Linked DNA regions of Homo sapiens: all the other regions are linked to region 1. The links come from fine-mapping of genetic effects on plasma protein levels. A gene starts in region 1. Each other region holds a variant in brackets. All regions are shown on one strand. Distances are between the middles of the regions. Region 1 holds the start of PRDX2 (peroxiredoxin 2). Region 2 overlaps ZNF564 (zinc finger protein 564). Region 3 holds the start of DHPS (deoxyhypusine synthase).

The links. PIP is the posterior inclusion probability: the model's chance that the variant is causal. The UK Biobank Pharma Proteomics Project read protein levels with antibody pairs (Olink). The fine-mapping took linkage between variants from a reference panel, not from the people measured, so its PIPs are less certain.
Region 2: its variant is fine-mapped to the plasma level of the PRDX2 protein (UK Biobank, PIP above 0.99).
Region 3: its variant is fine-mapped to the plasma level of the PRDX2 protein (UK Biobank, PIP above 0.99).

What each region holds. Positions count from the first base shown.
Region 1 is chr19:12,794,500-12,802,499 of GRCh38, forward strand. It overlaps PRDX2 (peroxiredoxin 2), which reads right to left and starts at 7,301. Exons shown (of 6, transcript NM_005809.6): 1 at 7,241-7,301; 2 at 6,660-6,771; 3 at 6,417-6,570; 4 at 5,678-5,800; 5 at 5,360-5,490; 6 at 2,324-2,667. The coding sequence starts at 6,762. The coding sequence ends at 2,582. THSD8 (thrombospondin type 1 domain containing 8) reads left to right here and starts at 7,570. Exons shown (of 2, transcript NM_001386800.1): 1 at 7,570-7,720. The coding sequence starts at 7,573. RefSeq lists enhancers at 1,720-2,129, 6,379-6,578, 6,906-7,464, silencers at 7,064-7,249, 7,259-7,648 and a cis regulatory region at 7,112-7,661.
Region 2 is chr19:12,518,477-12,526,740 of GRCh38, forward strand. ZNF564 (zinc finger protein 564) reads right to left here. Exons shown (of 4, transcript NM_144976.4): 4 at 6,897-8,264. The coding sequence ends at 7,970. Among named protein-coding and RNA genes, the nearest start is that of ZNF564, 29 kb to the right of the region's middle. RefSeq lists a silencer at 3,559-3,853. The variant C/G (reference allele first, on the strand shown) is at 3,724.
Region 3 is chr19:12,675,236-12,683,499 of GRCh38, forward strand. WDR83 (WD repeat domain 83) reads left to right here. Exons shown (of 11, transcript NM_001099737.3): 11 at 288-597. The coding sequence ends at 437. It overlaps DHPS (deoxyhypusine synthase), which reads right to left and starts at 6,645. Exons shown (of 9, transcript NM_001930.4): 1 at 6,325-6,645; 2 at 4,926-5,090; 3 at 4,566-4,687; 4 at 4,388-4,484; 5 at 4,222-4,308; 6 at 2,056-2,161; 7 at 1,873-1,976; 8 at 782-907; 9 at 482-698. The coding sequence starts at 6,531. The coding sequence ends at 603. RefSeq lists enhancers at 1,172-1,221, 6,296-6,819, 6,460-6,754, 6,820-7,342, 7,866-8,264 and cis regulatory regions at 5,876-6,376, 6,402-6,936. The variant CAA/C (reference allele first, on the strand shown) is at 7,484.

The sequences.
Region 1 (8,000 bases):
GAATGGAGTGGGAACATGGACCTTTAATAGGGTGACTTTTTCTTTTTTATATTTTAGAGACGGGTCTTTGTCCTGTTGCTCAGGTTGGAGCGCAGTGGTGCAATCATAGCTAACTGCAGCCTAGACCTTCTGTGCTCAAGCAAGCCTTCCACTTCAACTTCCCAACTAGCTAGAGCTACAGGCATACACCACTATGCCTGGCTAATTTTGTTTATTTTTGTAGAGATGGGGTCTGCTATGTTGCCCTGGCTGGTCTGGAACTGCTGGGTCAAACAGTCCTCCCGCCTTGGCCTTTCAAAGCACTGGGATTCCAGGCGTGAGCCAGTGCTCTTCTCCTGCAGTGACTTTTTTTTTTTTTTTTTAGACAGATTCTTGCTCTGTCACCCAGACTTGAGTGCAGTGGTGCGATCTTGGTTCACTGCAACCTCTGCCTTTCGGGTTCAAGCGATTTTCCTGCCTCAGCCTCCCAAGTAGCTAGGATTATAGGTGCCTGCCACCACGCCCTGCTAATTTTGTATCTTTAGTAGAGACTGGGTATCAGCACGTTGGCCAGGCTGGTCTTGAACTCCTGACTTGAGGTCATCTGCCAGCCTCGGCCTCCAAAATGCTGGGATTACAGGCGTGAGCCATCGTGCCTGGCCATGACTTTTCAACAGATTTGAAGAAGTGGGGTCCTGAGAAAATCCTGGGTAACAACAGCATCAGAGGTAACAGTTTTTTGTTTGTTTGTTTGTGTTTTTTAGATGGAGTCTCCCTCTGTCACCCAGGCAGGCTGGAGTGCAGTGGCTCGATCTCAGTTTACCGCAACCTCCACCCACAGGATTCAAGCGATTCTCCTGCTTGGCCTCCCAAGTAGCTGGGTCTACAGGCGTGCATCACCATGCCAGGCTAATTTTTGTATTTTTAGTAGAAACAGGGTTTCACCATGTTGGCCAGGCTGGTCTCGAACCCCTGACCTCAGGTGATCCGCCTGCCTGGGCCTCCCAAAGTGCTGGGATTACAGGCCTGAGCCACCCCGCTCAACTGGGAGCAGCTTTTTTTTTTTTTTTTTTTGAGACGGAGTCTCGCTCTGTTGCCCAGGCTAGAGTGCAGTGGCACGATCTCGGCTCACTGCAAGCTCTGCCTCCCGGGTTCACGCCATTCTCCTGCCTCAGCCTCCCAAGTAGCTGGGACTACAGGCACCTGCCAACATGCCTGGCTAATTTTTTGTATTTTTAGTAGAGAGGGGGTTTCACTGTATTAGCCAGGATGGTCTCGATGTCCTGACCTCGTGATCCGCCCGTCTCGGCCTCCCAAAGTGCTGGGATTACAGGCGTGAGCCACTGCGCCCGGCCTTGGGAGCAGCTCTTAAATGGCAAAATTCATGTAGCCAGGTGAGCCTGTGAAAGAACAGCAGGAAGCCAGCCTGTCTGGAATGGAGTGAACCACAACAGGGCAGATGTCAAGGGAGACTGAGCAGGGGCCTTGGGGAGGAGTGTAGATTAAATTCCAAGGGAGATGAGTGACCCTTAGAGGGTATTAGGTGGGTACCAGCATTAATAGTGGATCTGTGGATTAAATGAGCATATTAGCCCTGTTCTGTAGGAGGAAATTGGGGCATAGAGTAGCAAAACTACTTTCCTGAACGCACACAATATTAAACTGCACCCCTGGGAACCCTGCCTTGCTGCTAATACCTGCCTTCTAGCCTAACTGCCACCCTCCCACCCCAGGGGCAGACAGGCAACCTTTCCAGCCTGGGGTGGGGCAGAGCTCACAGCAGGGACTCTGCACTCTGCACGTAGCTCAGGCTCTCATTCTTGGTTCTGCTCTTAAGACTGGGTCCCCACCCTCTTCCCCATAAGACTACACTGGGCTGGGTTCCTTTCAGCTCGAGGAAGCCGTCTTAGGAACTAGGAACTGGGCCCTACACAGGGGCCTCAGCCCCGAGCTTCACATAACTTATCTCCTACAAATTTTACCACGTGCATGGTGATCTGGGTTTGCAGTCCCATTTTACTGCTGAAGAGACCCAGAGACGATCACAGCTCTTAAACGGCATTTGAACCCAGGCTGGCTGGTGACAAAATGTGGGCTTTGCCTTGCATGGCCAGATTTCTGGATGTAGGGCATCCTGGGATTTGCAAGGGACAAACGGCATACCCTACCCCTCCGAAACCGCCTTGAGCGCAAGCAGGAAAAGAGCAGGCACTAAGCATGTGATAAGACCGCCACCGTGTGGCGAAGATGAGCAACCACAGGGTCAGTTTCCCAAGCCTGAGCCTGAAGAAGGAAGGGGGTTGCAGGGGAGGACGAAAGGACAGAGCACACCAACACAGACTCACACCTTTCCCTAATACTTTATTGGTTACCTCTAGGCCTGTGTGCGGCTGGGTGGGCTTGGGGGAGGGCGTCACTATTCAGCTTCTAGGTGGAGGCATGAGAAGGCCTTGGCCTAGCCCTCCAGGGTCCCATACTGTGGAGTTTGGAGGGGCAGGTCTGGCCTTTCCTGGGTCAGCATAGGGCACCCAGGTGGGGGCACAGGTGGACACCCAGCACAGGCACCTAGGCAGGGGCACAAGCTCACTATCCGTTAGCCAGCCTAATTGTGTTTGGAGAAATATTCCTTGCTGTCATCCACGTTGGGCTTAATCGTGTCACTGCCAGGCTTCCAGCCAGCGGGACAAACTGTGGGAAGACACAAGGATGCACATGAAGGCTACAGCCCCAGGTTCAAGGTGAAGCAAAGCAAGGGCCTGTGTTGCAGAAGAAAATGCTGGAAGCAAGTGGTCCAGGCCCAGGAATGTGGATATTAAGATAAACCCTCCAAGCCCAGTTCAGTATTTTTTCTTTTTTTTTTTTTTCAGACAGAGTCTTGCTCTGTTGCCCAGGCTGAAGTACAGTAGCATGATCTGAGCTCATGCAACCTCTCCCTCCTGGGTTCAAGCGATTCTCATGCCCCAGACTCCCTAGCTGGAATTACAGAGGTGCACCACCACGCCTGGCTAATTTTTGTATTTTTGGTAGAGACCATGTTAGTCACGCTTGTCTCGAACTCCTGACCTCAAGTCATCTGCCCGTCTTGGCCTCCCAAAGTGCTGGGATTACAGGTGTGAGCCACCATGCCTAGCCAAGTTCAGTATTTTCTCTTTTTCTTTTCTTCTTTTTTCTTTCTTTCTTTTTTTTTTTTTTTTTTTGAGACAGAGTCCTCCTCTGTTGCCCAGGCTGGAGTGCAATGGCGTGATCTCGGCTCATTGCAACCTCTGCCTCCCGCGTTCAAGTGATTCTCCTGCCTTAGCCTCCTGAGTAGCTGGGACTACAAGTGCCCGCCACCACACCCTGCTAATTTTTTGGTACTTTTAGCAGAGACAGGGTTTCACCATATTGGTCAGGCTGATCTCGAACTCCTGACTTCAGGTGATCCACCCACCTTGGCCTCCCAAAATGCTAGGATTACAGGCGTGAGCCACTACACCTGGCCAAGTTCAGTATTTTCTAGCTGGTGTTTTTCCTACTCTTAATTCTTCAATTTCTTTTTGCCACCCAGCTCTCCTTTTTCTTCTTTTTTTCTTTTCTTTTTTTTTAAGATGGAGTCTTGCTCTGTTGCCCAGGCTGGAGTGCAGTGGCACGATCTCTGCTCACTGCAAGCTCCGCCTCCCAGGTTCACGCCATTCTCCTACCTCAGCCGCCAGAGTAGCTGGGACTACAGGCGCCCGCCACCACGCCCGACTAATTTTTTTGTATTTTTAGTAGAGACAGGGTTTCACCGCGTTAGCTAGGATGGTCTCGATCTCCTGACCTCTTGATCCGCCCGCCTCAGCCTCCCAAAGTGGTGGGATTACAGGCATGAGCCACCGTGCCCGGCCTCTTTTTTTTTTTTATTTTTTGAGACGGAGTTTCGCTTCACTCGTTGCCCAGGCTGGAGTGCAATGGCACGATCTCAGCTCACTGCAACCTCCGCCTCTCAGCTTCAAACGATTCTCTTGCCTCAGCCTCCCAAGTAGCTGGGATTACAGGCATGCACCACCAGGCTGGGCTAATTTTGTATTTTTAGTAGAGACTGGGTTTCTCCATGTCGGTCAAGCTTGTCTCGAACTCCCGACCTCAGGTGATCCACCCACCTAGGCCTCCCAAAATGCTGGGATTACAGGTGTGAGCCACTGCATCTGGCCTCTTTTTTTTTTTTTTTTTTTTTAACCAATACCCCATCTCTTAAAAAAAAAAAAAAAGAGATGGGGTATTGCTATGTTGCCTAGGCTCGACTCAAATTCCTGGGCCTAAGCAATCTTCTGCCTCACTCTCCAGAGTAGGTGGAACTACAGGCATGAGACACAGCATCTACAGGCATGAGACACAGCATCTTCCTGTCTTTTTGGCTCCTTTAGTCCCATCTTTGTCCCTCTGCCCCACCCCTACAGGTTTTTTTGTTGTTGTTGTTTTTGAGATGGAGTCTCACACTGGCGCCCAGGCTGGAGTGCAGTGGTGTGATCTCGGCTTACTGCAACCTCCTCCCGGGTTCAAGGGAGTCTCCTGCCTCAGCCTCCCAAGTAGCTGGGATTACAGGCACCTGCCACCGCACCCAGCTAATTTTTTTGTATTTTTAGCAGAGACGCGGTTTCACTATGTTGGCCAGGCTGGTCTCAAACTCCTGACCTCATGATCTGCCCGCCTCGGCCTCCCAAAGTGCTGGGATTACAGGCGTGAGCCACCGCGCTCGGCCTGTTTGTTTGTTTTTTTGAGACAGGGTCTTGCTGTGTCACCCAGGCTGGAGTGCAGTGGTGCGATCACAGCTTACTGCAGCCTTGACCTCCCAGGCTCAAGTGATCCTCCAGCCTCAGCCTCTTGAGTAGCTGGGACTATAGGCATGCTTCACAAACCAAGCTAATTTTTTTTTTTTTTGAGACTGAGTTTTGCTCTGTTGCCCAAGCTGGAGTACAACGGTGCGATCTCAGCTCACTGCAACCTCTGCCTCCTGGGTTCAAGCGAACTCCTGCCTCAGTCTCTCAAGTAGCTGGGATTACAAGTGTGCACCACCACGGCCAGCTAATTTTTTGTGTTCTTCGTAGAGACGGGGTTTCACCATGTTGGTCAGGCTGGTCTCGAACTCCTGACCTCAGGTGATCCACCTGCCACAGCTTCCCAAAGTGCTGGCAATACAACCGTGAGCCACTGAGCCCGGCCCCTTTGTCCACCTTGGTTGAATGTCAGGCGTTATTTGTCTCCTACCACATTAGAAACATCCTGCAGACAAAGCCCTGAGCTGAATCTTCTTTGGGGCCCTAACACCCATCTGGACAGGTAAGAGGACAGGCAGTGAATGTTTGCATGAGTGACGGAGGCGCTCAGTATGTACCCATGTGTCATGTGTGTATCTGCTCACCTTCCCCATGCTCGTCTGTGTACTGGAAGGCCTGGACCAGCCGCAGAGCCTCATCCACGGAGCGTCCCACAGGCAAATCATTAACAGTGATCTGGCGAAGGACACCCTTGCCATCGATGATAAAGAGGCCCCTGAAGACATCAGGGTTCCCAGTGAGGAGCTGATAGCTCCCACTGCCAGAGACAAGGAAGGGACTACCAACCACCCGCTGCTAGCCACAGGGCTGGGGGCAGAGAAGACATTGTACAGGAGTGGTCCCAGCATCACAGGAATGGGGGGCAGGGCGCTCCCTGAGCCGGGCTGAGGGTCCCACAGTACCTGTAGGCAATGCCCTCATCTGTTTTCAGCACGCCGTAATCCTCAGACAAGCGTCTGGTCACGTCAGCAAGCAGGGGGATGTTCAGGGGGCCCAAGCCTCCCTCTTTCCGGGGGGTGTTGATCCTGGGAGTAGGGGAGACAGAGTTGGGGCCTCAGGATGCCTGGCACAGCAGGGTCCTCACCCTGTGGGCCCAATGTGATAAGCACTGGAGGCCGGAGATAAGGGGCTTTAGAGTAGGCCGCTGGGAGCCTCACCCACCCCACCCTGGGTTGGGTGCAAGGACTGTATCCCCATGGCTGGGAAGACTGAGTTTGAGAGGCACAGCTCCAGCTAAGTGGCTTCACATGTACTTGTAACTTGCAGCATCACCCAGCAGAGAGCCTGTGTTAAGAGTCCCCATCCTCCTCTAGCTGTGTCATGGGGTACAGCCCTTCACTTCGGTGAACTGGAGTTTCCATCTTCATGAAATAGGGCAGCACAGCCTCCCTCCTGGGAACTAAGTACATAGAGTAGATAGAGTTGCATCTGAGTTGCATCTGCAACTCTATATACCAGGCAACTAGTTGTCAAATGCTAATTACTGTCATCATCCTTAAAGACTTGGGCGGCAATGTTTCCATTATTTTCACGATGGGGAAACGCAGGTTCCAGAGGTTGAGCAATGGCCACGAAGCCACACTGCTAGGACCTGAGGGTGTGAGCTTAGCTGCAACCTCCCTCTTTGGCCCCTGCTCATACCAAGCCAGGTGGGTGAACTGAGAGTCCACCGAGACGCCCAGCACTTCACAGCCCAGCTTGCGGAAGTCCTCTGCACGGTTGCTGAACGCGATGATCTCGGTGGGGCACACAAAAGTGAAGTCCAGAGGGTAGAAAAAGAGGACCACGTACTTCCCTGGGGAGGAGGGACACAGAGGAGTTAGGGCCCAGCTTCTCTCATGCACGGCCCCGCTTCTACCTGGGCCCCCTCCGGGCGGCGCTCACCTTTGTAGTCCGACAGCTTCACCTCTTTGAAGGCGCCATCAACCACCGCTGTGGCCTTGAAGTCAGGGGCTGGCTTTCCGATGCGCGCGTTACCGGAGGCCATGACTGAAAGCTGAGACCCCCGCCCGGTCAGTGCGCCCGGGAAGACACTTTGTCCTCCCAACCCAAGGTCGCGCTGCGTGCTGGGCCCTATGACTGAGTCAGCACGGCGGAGGCGACAGCACTAACCCTCACCCTCCCGGGTACCCGGTCTACGAGGCCCGGAGGCTGCCGGAGACCCGCTCTCCTGACCAGAGCACGAGTGACCCAGCCACTGCCACCAGCACCCCACGAGCGAGTCGGCCGGAGGGCGGTGTCGCAAGCCCCCAGCCCAGAAGGAGACAGTGAGGCCCGCACGAGCAGGGGGCGGGAAGTCGGGCGATCAGGCCTGCGCTGCAAGGCTGTGGCCTCGGTTTCCCCCGCAAGGACAAAGGAGGCCACTATAGCGGATGGAAAGCAAAGGCGGCCAGCACTAAAGTCAGGATCGGGCCAAAGCAGCCTGAAGGGGGTCCTCCCGCCAGGTGCACTCCGGGTGTTCATACCTGCGTGGGCAAAGGCTAGACGCACGGACGATCACACGCGTGGACCCGCGTTCTCAGCGCCAAGTGAGCCCTGGGCCGCGAAGCCTTTTATGCCCGGCCCGAACCAAGACGTGCACGGCGCGGGGGAGGGAGCGGACGAGCGGAGCGGTCGGGTCCACTGCGCCCGCAGGTGCGGGGGAGCGTGCGGCCGGGTCCATGCGCCTGCGGGCGGCGGGGGGAGACGCGTTGCCTTCGGCCGGGACCACTGCACCTGCCCGCGTGGGTAATGCGCCCGCCGCAGACTCCGCGCACGACTCCGCCTGGGAGCGCGTTGGGGGCCGTTGGAGTCCAGCATGGCGCGGACCCCGGGGGCGCTGCTGCTGGCGCCTCTGCTACTCCTGCAGCTGGCGACCCCTGCCCTGGTCTACCAGGACTATCAGTACTTAGGGCAGCAGGGCGAAGGTGACAGCTGGGAGCAGCTGAGGCTGCAGCATCTAAAGGGTAACCTCAGGCGGCGGGGATGACGATGCCCAAAGGCTCCCCGTTGCCCTACTTCTCCTGCTGGCTGCAAAGGGACCTTCCTCGGCGGGCTGCAAATCTCCACCCAGCTCCGCACTGGAGGCGTCCCCTTGGGCTGGTTACTTTTCTCTAAGGCTCGGTTTACTCTTGGATATATTGAAATAGATACTGCTTTAAAGCAGCTCCCAGGGGAAGAGAGGGTGTGGGCAGGACACTGAAGCTGTCACTCGGGGATAGGTGCCAGGAAGGGCAGAGACAGAGA
Region 2 (8,264 bases), 280 kb before region 1:
TAAAGAAATTCAGATGTGAAAAAAAAGGAGTTGGCCGGGCATGGTGGCTCACACCTATAATCCCAGCACTTTGGGAGGCCAGGCGGGTGGATCACCTGAGGTCAGGAGTTCGAGACCAGCCTGGCCAACATGGTGAACCCCGTCTCTACTAAAAATACAAAAATTAGCTGGGCTTGGTGGCGGGCACCTGTAATCCCAGCTACTCGGGAGTCTGAGGCAGGAGAATCGCTTCAACTGGGGAGGCAGAGGTGACAGTGAGCTGAGATCGTGCCATTGCACTCCAGCCTGGGAGACAAGAGCGAGACTTCATCTCAAAAAAAAAAAAAAGAAAAGAAAAGAAAAAGAAAAAAAAGGAGTTGGCTGGGTGTGGTGGCTCACGCCTATGATCCCAGCACTTTGGAAGGCTGAGGAAGGAGGATCACTTGAGGTCAGGAGTTCAAGACAAGCCTGGCCAACATGGTAAAACCCCGTCTCTACTAAAAATACAAAAAATTAGCTGGGCATGGTGGCGCATGCCTGTAATCCCAGCTACTCAGGAAGCTGAGACAGGAGAATCACTTGAACACGGGACGGGGAGGTTGCAGTGAGCGGAGATCGCACCACTGCACTCCAGCCTGGACGACAGAACAAGACTGTCTCAAAACAACAACAAAACAACAAAAAAAACAGGGTCATTCCAACTTATACTAAAGAAATAGAAAGAATTATAAAACAGACTATTATGAACAACTACACACCAATGAATTGGAAAACCTAGAAGAAATAGATAAATTCCTGGGCACGTACAACCTATCAAAATTGCGTCGTGAAGAAATAGAAAATCTGAACAGACTAATAAGAAGTAATGAGGTTAAATCAGTAATAAAAAGTGTCCCATCAAAGAAAAGCCCAGGACCTGATGGCTTCACTGCTGAATTCTACCAAACAAACACAACTAAAAAGTACAGGCCAACATCCCTGATTAACATAGATGTAAAAATCCTCAACAAAATACATGCAAACTGAATTCAACAGCACATTGAACAGACCATTCACCCTGACCAAGTAGGATGTATCCCATGGGTGTAGGGATAGTTCAACATATGGAAACCAATAAACGTGATACATCACAGTAACAGAATCAACAAGAAAAAAATATCATTTCAATATATGCAGAAAATGACTTGATAACATTCCATATATTCATGATAAAAACTCACAACAGGGCCGGGCGCAGTGGCTTATGCCTGTAAACCCAGCACTGTGGGAAGCCGAGGCGGGATCATGAGGTCAAGAGATCGAGACCATCCTGGCCAGCATGGTGAAACCCCATCTCTACTAAAAATACAAAAAATTAGCTGGGCGTGGTGGCACATGCCTGTAGTCCCAGCAACTCGGGAGGCTGAGGCAGGAGGATCACTTGAACCCAGGAAGCAGAGGATGCAGTGAATTGAGATCGTGCCACTGCACTCCAGCCTGGCGACAGAGTGAGACTCCGTCTCAAACAAAACAAAGCAAAACAAAACAAAAAAAACTCACAACAAATTAGGTATAGAAGGAACATATCTCAACACAATGAAAGCTTTATATGACAAACCTACGGCAAACATCATACTGAACAGGAAAAAAATGGAATGCTTTTTCTCTAAGATCTGGAATAAGATAAGCACTCCCACCACTTCTAGTCAATGTTGTATTGGAAGCCCTCATCAGAATTATTAGACAAAAAAGAACAACAAAGGAAGGGAGGGAAGGAAGGAGAAAAGCCAACCAAATTGGAAAAGAAGAAGTAAAATTACATTTTTGCGGACAAGATTGTATATATAGAAAACCTTGCCGGGCACGGTGGCTCACGCCTGTAATCCCAGCAGTTTGGGAGGCTGAGGCGGGTGAATCACAAGGTCAGGGGTTCAAGACCAGCCTGACCAACATGGTGAAACCCCCGTCTCTACTAAAAATACAAAAATTAGCTGGGCGTGGTGGCAGACGCCTGTAATCCCAGCTACTCAGGAGGCTGAGGCGGGAGAATTGCTTGAACCTGACAGGCGGAGGCTGCAGTGAGCCAAGATCGTGCCACTGCACTCCAGCCTGGCAACAGAGCGAGACTCTGTCTCAAAAAAAAAAAAGAAAAAGAAAAAAGAAAACCCTAAAGACACCACCAAAAAATTGTTAGAACTAAAACAAATGCAGCAAAGTTGAAGGATATGAAAATCAACATATAAAAATCAGTAGTGGCCCCAGCCTGGCCAATATGGTGAAACCCCATCTCTACTAAAAATATATAAAAAAAAAAAAAATTAGCCAGGCATGGTGGCAGATGCCTGTAGTCCCAGCTACTCGGGAGGCTGAGGCAGGAGAATCGCTTGAACTTGGGAGGCAGAGGTTGCAGTGAGCCGAGATCGTGCCACTGCACTCTAGCCTGGGCAAGAGAGCGAGACTCTGTCTCAAAAAAAAAAAAAAAAAAAAAAATTCAGTAGTGTTTCTATATGCCAACAGCAAACTATTAGAAAAAGGCATCAAGAAACCAATTCCATAGATGATAGCTACAAAAATAAAATATTTAGGAATAAATATAACCAAAGAGGTGAAAGAGCTCTACAATAAAAACTATAAAATGCCGGTGAAATAAATTGAAGAGGACACAAATAAATAGGAGGATATTCTGTGTTCATGGACTGAAAGAATTAATATTTTTCTTTTCTTTTTTTTTTTTTTGTTTTGAGACAGAGTCTCACTCTGTCACCCCAGGTTGGAGTGCAGTGCTGTGATCACAGCTTACTGCAGCCTTGATGTTCCGGGCTCAAGTAACCTTCCTGCCTCAGCTGGGACTACAGGCACACACCACCACGCCCAGCTAATTTTTTAAAAATTTGTTGTAGAGACGAGGTCTCACTGTTTCCTGGGCTAGTCTCAAACTACTGGGCTCAAGTGATCCTTCTGCCTCTGCCTGCCAAAGTGCTGGGAATACAGATGTGAGCCACCATGCCCAGCTTAGAATATTCTTCAAATGTCCATACCACCCAAAGCAATTTGCAGATTCAAGTGTGATCCCTATCAAAATACAAGAGCCATACTTCACAGAAATCGAAAAAATTATCCTAAAATTCATATGGAACCACAAAAATAGCCAAAGCAATCTTGAGTATGACTTCACAATAGACTACAAATCTAAAGTAACCAAAAAAGCACCGTACTGGCATAAACATAGACAGACCAGTGGAACAGAATAGAGAAACCAGAAATAAATTCACACACTTACCAACGATTTTTGACAAAGGTGCCAAAAACACAGACTGGAGAAAGGACAGTCTCTTCAATGAATGGTGATGGGAAAACTGGATTATCAACATGCAGAACATTGAAACTGGACCCCTATCTTTCACCATATACAAAAATCCACTCAAAATGGATTACGGACTTACATGTAAGACTTGAAACTGTAAAACTACTAAAGGAAAACAGTAAAATTCTACATGACCTTGTCTGTGCAAGGACTTTGTGGATAAGAACTCAAACACACGGGCAGCAAAAGCAAAAACAGACATGAGATTACATCAAACATCTCAATCCCAGCATTATCTCACTCATTCCACCTCTGGGAGTTACTCTGGGGCAGTCTCTGGCTGGATTCATCTTTCTCTGTGCTCTGCACAGACCTAGTACCAAGGGGACTAGAAGCAGCATTTACTTGTTCACTAAAAAAGGGGTATCTGCAGGAAGGTGCTGCAGTTCAGGCTGTGGCCA[C/G]GCTGGGGCATCAGTAGACAGGTAAAATGTAGTAAGATAACCCACAGAAGGTGCATCGTGACGTGCTTGACAGTAATTCTGTCTGAAGCGTTTTGTTTTGCTTTGTTTTGTTTGAGACAGGGTCTCACTCTGTCACACAGATTGAAGTGCGGTGGCATGATCTCAGCTCACTGCAATCTCCGCTTCCCAGGTTCAGGCGATTCTCCTGTCTCAGCCTCCCGAGTAGCTGGAATTACAGGCGTGTACCACCACACCCGGCTGATTTTTATATTTTTAATAAGAGACGGGGTTTCACCACGTAGGCCAGGCTGGTCTTGAACTCCTGACCTCAAGCTATCTGCACACCTCGGCCTCCCAAAGTACTGGGATTACAGGCGTGAGCCACTGTGCCTGGGCATAAAGTGTTTCCATTAGCAGTACTCATGTTGCGGTATTATTGTCATCATCATCATTTTCATAAAGTAGAAAGTAAAACTTCTCTCAATGGTACCCATAATTTACACTGAAGATGTAACTATTCCTTGAGAACAAGATAGAACCTGGCCTGGGAAACAGCACTAATGCTTGTAAATTAGTTCTGTGACAACTATTCTGATTTCTTCTATGGTTGCTTATTCTTCCATACCATGTAAGTAAATTCCGTGATTATTAGTTTTGGGTGATTCATGCTTTCCCCACTAGAAAGAACAATTTGGTTTATTACGCTATCTTCCACCCGTTTCTCCAACACCAGTCACTATTTCAGTCAGAGCATGAAGAAAAATAATTTTGGAAATGGAAACCTGATGTTCTGCCATTTAAAGGTACTTCATGAAATCCACTCCAAGAGGGATCACTTGCTTCATTTCCTTGCAGAGTTGTTTTTTGTTTTTTTTTTTTTTTTTGCGATGGGGTCCCACTCTGTCGCCCAGGCTAGAGTGCAGTGGTGCAATCTTGGCTCACTGCAACCTCCGCCTGCTGGGTTCAAGCAATTCTCCTGCCTCAGCCTCCTGAGTAGCTGGGATTACAGGCGTCAGCCACCATGCATGGCTAATTTTTCGTATTTTTAGTAGAGTTGGGGTTTCACCATGATGGCCAGGCTGGTCTCAAACTCCTGACCTCGTGATCCATCCGCCTTACCCTCCCAAAGTGCTGGATTACAGACATGAGCCACTGTGCCTGGCCCATTTATTTCTTTATTGTGCAAGCAGTGACTTATTTATCCACTGCTTTTTTTTTTTTTTTTTTTTGAGATGGAGTCTGGCTCTGTCACCTAGGCTGGAGTGCAGTGGCGTGATCTCAGCTCACTGTAACCTCTGCCTCCCAGGTTCAAGCAATTATCTTGCCTCAGCCTCCCAAGTAGCTGGGATTACAGGTGTGCACCACCACACCCAGCTAATTTTTCTGTTTTTAGTGGAAATAGGGTTTCGCTGTGTTGGCGAGGCTGGTCTCGAACTCCTGGCCTTAAGTGATCTGCCTGCCTCGGACTCCCAAAGTGCTGGGATTACAGACATAAGCCACCACACCAGGCCTGGCTCTCCATTTCTTGAACACCACCTTTACCCCAGGTACAGAATTAGTGGTAAATAGTTACACATTACCTATTACATAAACTTTCCATACCTAAGAAGTTCTCTCCCACCTTTTCTGGACACTATATGCTGCTATTTCTTCTCATATTCTTAAAGATTTCCGAGCAAAGAATTTCTATTTGCTTAAATTATCAGATATATATTTGATATACATGTCTGTGAATAGTGTGCAGAGGAAATTAAAAGTATCCCTCTTCAATAAAGGGAAGTGGTTATCATAGGCCCTGGGTCTGGGAGTGAGGTCCAGGTCTACAGTGAAGGGGGGAGGAGACAGGGAAGTCAATCCTGGGGATCAAATCTAAATGCCTACTAAAATCCAAATGGACTGTGTAGGAACAGGTCCCTCATGGATAGAAAAACGAAAAAAACAGTGCTGAGAACAAGTAGGAAAGAGACCTAGAGACTAGGCGCAGTGGCTCACGCCTGTAACCCCAGCACTATCGGAGGCCGAGGCGGACAGATCACTTGAGATCAGGAGTTCAAGACCAGCCTGGCCAACATGGCGAAATCCCGTTTCTACTAAAAATACAAAAATTAGCTGGGTGTGGTGGTGCGCACCTGTAATCCCAGCTACTCAAGAGGCTGAAGCATGAGAAGCCTTTGAATCTGGGAGGCAGAGGGTGCAGTGAGCCAAGATCTCACCACTGCACTCCAGCTTGGGCGACAGAGCAAGACCCTATCTCAAAAAAAAAAAAGAGAGACCTAGAGTGTCTTGGTATGCTGAAGGTCCCACAAGGTCTATGCAGTACTGTGGTCTTTTCTCCCTTTTTTGTGTGTAAAACATACATAAAATTCACCATCATAATCAATTTTAAGTGTACAGTTCAGTGCCATTAAGAACATTCATACTAGTGTGCAACCATCACCACCATCCACCTCTGGAACCCTTTTTATCTTGCAAAATTGAAACTCTATGCCCATGAAATAACTATCCATTACCCAATTTCCCTAACCTTTGGCAAATGGTATTGTACTTTTTCTATCAATATGACTACTCTAGATACCTGATATAAGTAGAATCATACCGTATTGTCTTTACATGAATGGCCCATTTCACTTAGCACGTCAAGGTTCATCTTGCAGCATATTTGTAAATTTCCTTACTTTGTAAGACTCAGTAATATTCTCTTGTATGTATAAACTTCCTTTTGTTTATTCATCTGTTGATGAAAACCTGAGTAGTTTCCAGAGTTTACCTATTGTGAATGATGCTATGTACACAGGTGTACAAAACCTATTTGAGACTTTGCTTTCAATCTTTTTTGTTTTGTTTTGTTTTTTGAGACGGAGTCTTGCTCTCTCACCCAGGCTGGAGTGCAGTGGCGCGACCTCAGCTCACTGCAAGCTCTGCCTCCCGGGTTCATGCCATTCTCCTGCCTCAGCCTCCCGAGCAGTTGGGACTACAGGCGCCTGCCACCACGCCCGGCTAATTTTTTTTTAGTAGAGACGGGGTTTCATCATGTTAGCCAGGATGGTCTCAATCTCCTGACCTTGTGATCCGCCTGCTTCGGCCTCCCAAAGTGCTGGGATTACAAGCGTGATCCACCACGCCCGGCCCTGCTTTCAATCTTTTTATTTTCCCAGAAATGGAAATGCTGATCATATGTTATTTCTATATTTTAATCTGGGGATCTGCCATACTGTTTTCAGCAGGCTTATACCACTGTACATTCCCAGTGATAGTGCACAATGTTCTCCAACATTCCACATCCTTGACAGTATTTCTTGTTTTCCATCTTTGATACTACTAATCCTAATGAGATGCTATGTATGTCTTGAGTTTGATTTGTATTTCCCTAATGACTAAAGATGTCGAGCATTGTTACGTGCTTATTGGCCATCTGGGTATCTTCTTTGGAGAAATGTCTATTCAAGTCCTTTCCTCCATTTTAAAATTGGATTGTGTCTTAGCTTGGGTTGCTAAAACAAAATACCATAAATTGGAAAGCTTAATTAATCAACAAACATTTATTTCTCATGGTTTGGGAGGCTGGGAAGTCCAATATCAAGGCACTGGCATAGTCCATGTCTGGTAAGGGCCTGCTTCCCGGTTCAAAGATAGCTATCTTCTCACTGCACCCTCTCATGGTGAAGGGCAAAGCTAGCTCTCTAGGGATTCCTATCAGGAAACTAATCCCAATTACAAGGCCTCCATCTTCATGATGTCCTCCAATCCTAAAAACCACCAGAGACAGGGCCTCCAAATACCATCACATTGTGGGGGAGAGGGGGGGCACGGGGGTAAGGTTTCAACATATGAATCTGAGGTGGCATACACTCAGCCAAAACATTACACCTCTGGCCCCCAAAATCCATGTCATCACATGTAAAATATATTCATCTCATCCCAAAGGCCTCAAAAGTCTCAGTTAATTCCAGCATGAAGCCTAATGTTTAAACTCAAACTCCAAAGTGTCATCTCAATATCACATCACTCAGATATGGATGAGACTCAATTCATGCTGAGGCAAAATTCTTCTTCAGCTCCGAACCGGTGAAAACCAAACTAGTCATGTATTTCCAAAATATGAGACAGGCACAGGATAGAGATTCCTATTCCAAAAGTGAGAAACAGGAGAAAGGGGTGAGCTCCCAAACAAGTCTGAAACCCAGAAAGCAAACTGAAGACTTTCCATATTCTTTAGATATGTAGATACTTGTAGACCTGTCCTCCACTATTCATTTTCACAGGTATTCGAAGGTTGTGTGATAAATGAAAGCTTTCCCACATTCTTTACGTAAGGTTTATCTCCATTATGAGCTCTTTCATGTCTTTGAAAGGAACTGGAATAACTGAACGTTTTTCCACATTGCTTACATTCATAGGGTTTTTCTCCGGTATGAGTTCTTTCATGTATTCTAATGGAACTGGCATAATTGAATGCTTTCCCACATTCTTTACATTCATAGGGTTTTTCTCCAGTATGAGTTCTTTCATGTGTTCGGACAGAACTAGGACAGTCAAAGGCT
Region 3 (8,264 bases), 120 kb before region 1:
GGGCAACATGGTAAGACCCCATCTCTGCTATTTTAAAAAATAAAAAATCAATAAGAGGCTCCCAAGACTTGCGGCCTGAACACCTGGTAGGACAGAGCTACTGAGGGGCTCAGTCTGAGGTAGATTAATTTTGCAGTGTCTAGGAGGCAATTAGAGGCAGGTGGCTGAAGGTCGGGGAGAGGTGACTGAGGGCTTCAGGCAGGACTGAGATGGGGGGTGCCCAGGGACCTCAGAAACCAGGGTACAGCCCAGCCACAGATAACCACTCCCTACCCCTCGCTCCACAGGGTGCGCTGGCTCTGGCCCTGCCTGTGGGTTCCGGTGTGGTGCAGTCGCTGGCCTACCACCCAACAGAGCCCTGCCTGCTGACCGCCATGGGAGGCAGCGTCCAGTGCTGGCGAGAGGAGGCCTATGAGGCAGAGGATGGAGCAGGCTGAAGCCAGGGGACCCACCAACAGGACCAAGGACCGAGACACAGACATGGAAGGACTTCAGATACCATCTTATTCTAGAGACGTAGCTGACCAAAAAGTAGGGGAGGGGCTGGGTCTGCAAATTAATAAATAGAAGAGGGGGTAAGACCTTCCTGGGACCGCAGCCGCTCAGTCCTCGTTCTTCTCATGCATGAAGGCATCCATCTTCTGGGCAAAGGTTTCAGCCACAAGCAGGGGGAAGACCAGGGAGGCGTCAGCATAGACCTGGGTAGGGGGGAACCTGGGTAAGCCATGGGACCCACACTCATCGTCCCAGAGACCCTATGCCCCACCCAGCCAGCGCTTACCTTGACGGGCTGTGCATCCACCCGGATCTTGCCCCAGGAGACAGCCTCGTCTGGTCGGGCACCTGAGTCAGAGCCATCAAACTCCTGGGCTGTGTTGATGTAAACAGCGTAGTCGGCCCCGTTCCGCTGTGGGGAGGCGGGGGCACGGTGGGCCCAGTCAGCCAGTCACAGGAGACAGACACAGAGGGAGGACACCGTAGCCAAACAGGCTGAGAGGTGTGTCCCAGATGAAGGAAGCCCTTCACAGACATTCGCTCCCAGACAGGGCCCATGTCAATGTCTGGGGTCACTAGAGCTGCTGGGCAACGATGGCTGTGTTTCCCCAGACCCAACAGCCAGGTGTCAACAACCCTGCCCCATCTGCAAGGCAGGAGCTGCCAGCAACTCTATCTTCAGAAGCCCTCCAAATCCAACCACCGCCTGCCTCCTGATCCCTGCATGGTCACCACTGTCCTGGACTGGAGTTCTCACTCACCTGCCACCATCTGTTCACCACATGGCCACCAGGGGGAGCATGGGAACCCGAGTCAAGTCCTCTCCCACTTCTCTCAGTGCAAAAGCCAAAGCCCCGCCTCAGCCCACAGGGCCCAGCAGGCTCCCTGTGGCACCTCCCTGCATCACCTCCTGGCCCTCACCACTCCACCTTCCCCTCACCAGGTACCCAGCTGTTCCTGGATTACTTCAGGCGCCCCAGAGCCTTTGCAATGGCTGTTCCCTCTCCTGGGAACTTTGCAATCCAGAAGCTCAATGCTAGTACAGCAGCACAAACTCCTGGCACGGGAGACAACCACATAGCTCCTGGGAGATGCCTCCCCAAACCCCTGCTCCCAGCTCACACTTCCAGAAGCCTCCTTCCAAAACCTCTTGTTGGACAGCACCCCTTTCTCTTCTCATGCCATCATTTAGTATTCCCCGTAGCAATGACTGCCCCCTGACGTGGATGTCACTTGTTTGCTATCTCCCCTACTAGAACATCAGTCCCGGGGAGCAGGGATCCTGGCCTGTCTAGTTCATGCTGTCTACCCAGCACATGGCATAGGCCCACCACACAGCATGTCTGCAGAGTGGGCCGAAGCGCCACCCCCACTCACCATGAGGTTGGCATTGGCAATGTGGTGCTTGACCACGCCCCCGCCCAGAATGATCATCCCAGTGCACTTGGCAAAGATGGCCTGTGTGTTGATGAGCCTCAGGTCTGGGGGAAGAGCGCCGAAGTCAGGCCTTGGACTCAGCCAGCCCTCCTTCCCCTCTCCTCTGTGGCCCTAGCGCCTCACCCTCAACGATGTCCAGGACCAGGCCCGGGTTCTTGTAGGAATGGAAGAAGATCATGTCGCCCAGCGAGCCGTCTGTAAGTGCGGGACTAAACACAGGGATGTGGTTCTGCAGAGAACATGACAGGACAGTGGCTGGAGCTCAGAGCCTCGTCTCCATGCTGGCTATATGACTATCTGACTGTGGATGGGGTGCCTAATTTCTCTAGGACTGTTTCCTCAATTATAAGCATAACAGAAACACCTCTCACAGATGAGGCCTATATGAGAAAACCCACAGAAAACACTTAGTATAGTGCCTGGCACATAAAGAACCAGCCTATTCTTAGCTTGCTGAGCTGTTTCTCTCTCTTTTTTTTTATTCCCTGAGACGGAGTTTCACTCGTTGCCCAGGCTGGAGTGCAATGGCACTATCTCAGCTCACTGCAACCTCTGCCTCCTGGGTTCCAGTGATTCTCCTGCTTCAGCCTCCCGAGTAGCTAGGATTACAGGCGCATGCCACTATGCCCAGCTAATTTTGCATTTTGTTTTTTTAGTAGAGACAGGGTTCCACCATGTTGGCCAGGCTGGTCTTGAACTCCTGACTTCAGGTGATCCACCCGCCTCAGCCCCCAAAGTACTGGGATTACAAGCATGAGCCACCGTGCCCGGCCGTCTAATTCTTTTTTAAAGAGCCAGCTTGTGGCCGGGCGCGGTGGCTCACGCTTGTAATCCCAGCACTTTGGGAGGCCGAGGCGGGTGGATCACCTGAGGTCAGGAGCTCGACACCAGCCTGACCAACATGGAGAAACCCTGCCTCTACTAAAAATACAAAATTAGCCAGGGGTGGTGGCACATGCCTATAATCCCAGCTACTTGGGAACTTGATGCTGAGGCAGGAGAATTGCTTGAACCCAGGAGGTAGAGGTTGCTGTGAGCCAAGATTGCGCCATTGGACTCTGGCCTGGGTAACAAGAGCAAAACTCCGTCTCAAAAAAAAAAAAAGAGCCAGCTTGTGCAACATGGTGAGTTCCCATCTCTACAAAAACAATTAGCCAGGCATGGTGGCACGCACCTGTAGTCCCAGCTACTCAGCAGGCTGAGGCAGGAGAATCGACTGAGCCCAGAAGCTCAAGACAGCAGTGAGCCATTATTGTGCCATTGCACTCCAGCCTGGGAAACAGAATGAGACCCTGTCTCGTAAAAAAGAAAGAGTAAGTAGGCTGGGTGTGGTGGCTCACCCCTGTAATCCCAGCACTTTGGGAGGCCAAGGCGGGTGGATCACTTGAGGTCAGGAGTTCAAGACCAGCCTGGCCAACATGGTGAAACCCCATCTGTAGAAAAATACAAAAATTGGCCGGGCATGATGGTGGGTGCCTATAGTCCCAGCTACTCAGGAGGGTGAGGCGGGAGAATCACTTGAACCTGGGAGGTGGAGGGTGCAGTGAGCTGAAATCACACCATTACACTCCAGCCTGGGCGACAGAGCAAGACTCTGTCTCAAAAAAAAAAAAAAAAAAAAAAAGACTATGTAGCTTTTTTTTTTTTTTTTTCAGGTTCTGATTCTCTAATTAAAGGGAGTGGGTAGCTCTTATTTTATAGCATCTGGGAGTGTGGGACCCTGAGCCAGGCCCCAGGAGAGTTGCTAAGTGTTGCCTCTACTGTTCCAGAGATAGTCTGGGAGGAGCATAAGGATGCTGAGGCCCCACTAGTTATCTGTGTGACTTCAGACAAAATTACCTAGCCTGGCTGGGCACAGTGGCTCACGCCTGTAATCCCAGCACTTTGGGAGGCCAAGGTGGGAGGACTGCCTGACGCCAGGAGTTCAAGACCAGCCTGGGAAACACAGGGAGACCCCCATCTCTACAAAAAATTTTTAAAATTAGCTGGGCATGATGGCATGTGCCTGTGGTCCCAGCTACTCGAGAGGCTGAGGTGGGAGGACTGCTTGGCCCCAGGAGGTTGAGGCTGCAATGAGCTGTGATCACACCACTGCACTCCAGCCTAGGTGACAGAGCAAGATCCTGTCTCAAAAAAAAAAAAAATTACCACGCCTATCTGTGTTTGAGTCTCCTCATCTAAGAGTGAGGATGCTGAGAATAACAGTACTGAATCCCCAGGAGGCTGGAAAGATGAAATAAGTTAACACATGCCAAAGTCTGGCTACTTTGCTCCCGCTTAGGTCCTCACCTTCTGGGCCCAGTAATACACGGACTCTGGGTTGTTGATCTCCTTGCCCAGCCGGGCGATCATCTTAGAAGGCGTCCACTTTACACCCTAGGAGAGGATGTGACCTTCAGGCCATGCCTCCCCTGACTCCCACTGAACTGGCCCCTCCAGGTTGCCCCAGCCCCACCTCTGTGTTCTGCTCCATCACCATCTGGTCCAGAATGGGCATCAGCCAGTCCTCAAACTTGCAGTAATTCTCATTGGGCACCAGCAGGTTTCCGATCCTGAGAACAGGAGGCATGTAGGCATCAGGCCCCAGGACCCTTGGTCCAGCTCCCCTGCCCAACACCACTCAGGGTTCTCACCTATTGATCCCGTTCTCCCGGAGCTCCTTCCCCCTGAGGCTAAACTCGCCCAAGTATGTGGGCGCCAGGCACTTGATGAGGTCTTCCTCCACGCCGCCAGCTGTGGTCACCAATACGTCCACCTGCAGCCACAAGGCAGTGAATTTGGCCCAAGAAGGAAGCCCCTGCCCTCATTCTGGGCAGAACTTCTAACCTCATCCTTGTCCAGTGACTCTTATGAGGGAGCTCTGCTACAAAACAAAACTTGATTCTATTCCTCTGCTTATAACAGACCCCTATCTGCCCATCTCACTTAAACGATCAATAACTGCATTGCCCATTGACCCAGAGGCCAAGGCCACGGCCTCACCAGGTCCCCACCATGTTGTGCTGCACAAGGTAGCGAATGGTCTCACGGATGCCTGAACTGATGAGGTTGGATGTATATCCCAGGAAAATGGTGCAGCTGGTAAGTGGGCGGCGGCTCTGGGTCAGGTCCGCGTGCTGGTCTTCATCCTGTGACAGTGGTTCCAGCTTCTTCTCGATCTGTGAGTAAGGGCCAAGTCAAGTTAAGCACTGGCCTTAAATCCCAGACTCAGGACTCCAGGTGGGCTCCAGAAACAGATTTCACCCCAGGCCCTGCACATTCAGGGATACAGGACCAGTTCTACAGGGGACCAAGGAACATCTCCTGTGTAAACTCTGCCCCTTCCCAGACCAGATCTCAAGACACACGTTCAGGATTTGCCCCCACCCTTTTTTTTTTTTTTTTGGACGGAGTTTCACTCTTGTTACCCAGGCTAGAGTGCAATGGCGCGATCTCGGCTCACTGCAAGCTCCACCTCCCGGGTTCAAGCGATTCTCCTGCCTCAGCCTCCCGAGTAGCTGGGACTACAGGCGCGCACCACCATGCCCGGCTAATTTTTTGCATTTTAGTAGAGACGGGGTTTCTCCATGTTGGTCAGGCTGGTCTCGAACTCCCGACCTCAGGTGATCCGCCCGCCTCGGCCTCCCAAAATGCTGAGATTACAGGCATGAGCCACCGTGCCCGGCCTTTTTTTTTTTTTTTTTTTGAGACAGAGTATCGCTCTGTCACCAGGCTGGAGTGCAGTGGCGCAATCTCAGCTCACTGCAACCTCCACCTCGCGGGTTCAAGCGATTCTCCTGCCTCAGCCTCCCGAGTAGCTGGGACTACAGGCGCGCAACACCATGCCCGGCTAATTTTTTGCATTTTAGTAGAGACAGGGTTTCACCATGTTGGCCAGGCTTGTCTCGAACTCCTCTTCTCTTGATCCACCCGCCTCGGCTTCCCAAAATGCTGGGATTATAGGCATGCGCCACCGCGCCCAGCCAGCCCCCACCCTTTTAGGAATCAGAGAGCATCTCCTTTCAGATCCGGTCCCTTCCCCGCTGGGAAAAGCAAATCTAAATTCAAGAACCGCCCAGACTTAGGCTCCTCCTCCCATATCCTCCCTTAATTTGTCTTGCCCCAGGCTCCGCCCATTCCAGAAAGCTTTAAATGTACCTAGAACCCGCCCCCACACCAAGAATCAGTCCTCGCCTCCTCAGGTTACCGTACCAGCATGTAACTACCAGAGTGCAAAATCCCCTTCCCAGGACAGAAACTCCCGCCCAGAATAGGTCCCGCCTTCCTCCAACTATTGGGCAACTCAAATAAAAGACATATCCCCTCCACTGGAAACGCTGCCCCCGTCTAGTACCGCGTTGGTTCTACAAGCCACGCCCCTCCGCGTCCCTAGAAATTCCGCCCGGTCCTCACCATGGCATTGACTTGCTGTACAGCGCGCCCGAAGTTGGTTGCTTGGAAGCCGGTGGTGCCGAAGGCCTCCAGCAGTGCGCGGTAATTCACACCGCGGTTGAAGTCGTAGCCCCGGACCTGGGTGCTTTCGGGCGGCAACGTCGAGCTGTGCTTTAGCACGGCGGCCAGCGCCCCCGCTGGCGCCTCCCGTTCCAGGGAACCTTCCATGCGCCTATAGCCGGCTCTCGAGTCAAAGCTGCCCCTAGGCCGGGCTTACGGCGGCCCAGAAACGCGTTAAACCCCGACGCGCGCGTCTCCGCAAGAGCACAGGAAGTAGGGAACGTGCTTTGGGCGAAAGACCGGAAGTTGGTTTATCACGTGACCATTTTTAGCCCCTGTAAACCAGGTCGCCGCCATTTTTGTGCGTGTGTTCCGTAATACGGAAGCCGCGAGGAGCCTTTAGGCCCTTTCTTTCTTTTTTTTTTTTTTTTTTTTTTTGAGACGGAGTCTCGCTCTGTCACCCAGGCTGGAGTGCAGTGGCGCGATCTCAGCTCACTGCCAGCTCCGCTTTCCGGGTTCACGCTGTTCTCCTGCCTCAGCCTCCCGAGTAGCTGGGACTACAGGCGCCCACCACCACGCCCGGCTAATTTTTTTGTATTTTTAGTAGAGACGGGGTTTCACCTGGTCTCGATCTCCTGACCTCGTGATTCGCCCGCCTCGGCCTCCCAAAGTGCTGGGATTACAGGCGTGACCCACCGCGCCCGGCGCCTTTAGGCCTTTTCTTCCTTTTTTTTTCTTTTTTTTTTTTTTGATACAGGGTTTCGCTCTTGTTGCCCAGGCTGGAGTGCAATTGCCCGATCTCAGCTCACCACAACCTCCACATTCCGGGTTCAAGCGATTCTCCTGCCTCAGCCTCCCGAGTAGCTGGGACTACTGGCATGCACCGCCATGCCCGGCTAATTTTGTATTTTTAGTAGAGGCGGGGTTTCTCCCTGTTGGTCAGGCTGGTCTCGAACTTCCGACCTCAGGTTATCCGCCCGCCTCAGCCTCCCAAAGTGCTGGGATTACAGGCGTGAGCCACTGCGCTTCGGCCTTTACTTGTTTTCATGTGTTCTCGACTTCCCATGAATGAAGATTCTTTTTTATTTTTATTATTTATTTATTTAATTTATTTTTGAGA[CAA/C]GAGTTACACGCTCTTGTTACGCAGGCTGGAGTGCGGTGGTGCAATCTTGACTCATTGCAACCTCTGCCCCCCTGGTTCAAGCGATTCTCCTGCCTCAGCCTCCCGAGTTGCTGGGATTACAGACACCCACCACCAGGCCTGGCTAATTTTTTATTTTTAGTAGAGATGGCATTTCACCATGTTGGCGAGGCTGGTTCTGCCCTCAGGTGACCGCCCGCCTGGGCTTTCCAAAGTGCTGAGATTACAGGTGTGAGCCACCGTCCCCAGCCAAAATTCCTATTTTAATGCCACCTGCTGGAGACCCACTGCTTGGCCCGGCACTCGCCCATTCGTTTCTGTTCTGTCCCCTCGGGAGGGGAGGATGGTTTTGTTGTTGTTGTTGCTGTTTTGTTTGTTTGTTTGTTTGAGCTAGAGTCTTGCGCTGTCTCCCAGGCTGGAGTGCAGTGGCACGATCTCGGCTCACTGCAACCTCCGCCTCCCAGGTTCACGCCATTCTTCTGCCTCAGCCTCCCCAGTAACTGGGACTACAGGCGCCGGCCACCACGCCCGGCTAATATTTTGTATTTTTAGTAGAGACGGGGTTTCACCGTGTTAGCCAGGGTAGTCTCGATCTCCTGACCTCGTGATCCGCCCGCCTCAGCCTCCCAAAGTGCTGGGATTACAGGCATGAGCCACCGCGCCTGGCCTGCTGCTATTTTTTGATAGGGTCTCACTCTGTCGCCAGGCTGGAGTGCTGTGACGCGATCTCGGCCCACTGCAACCTCTGACTCCCGGACTC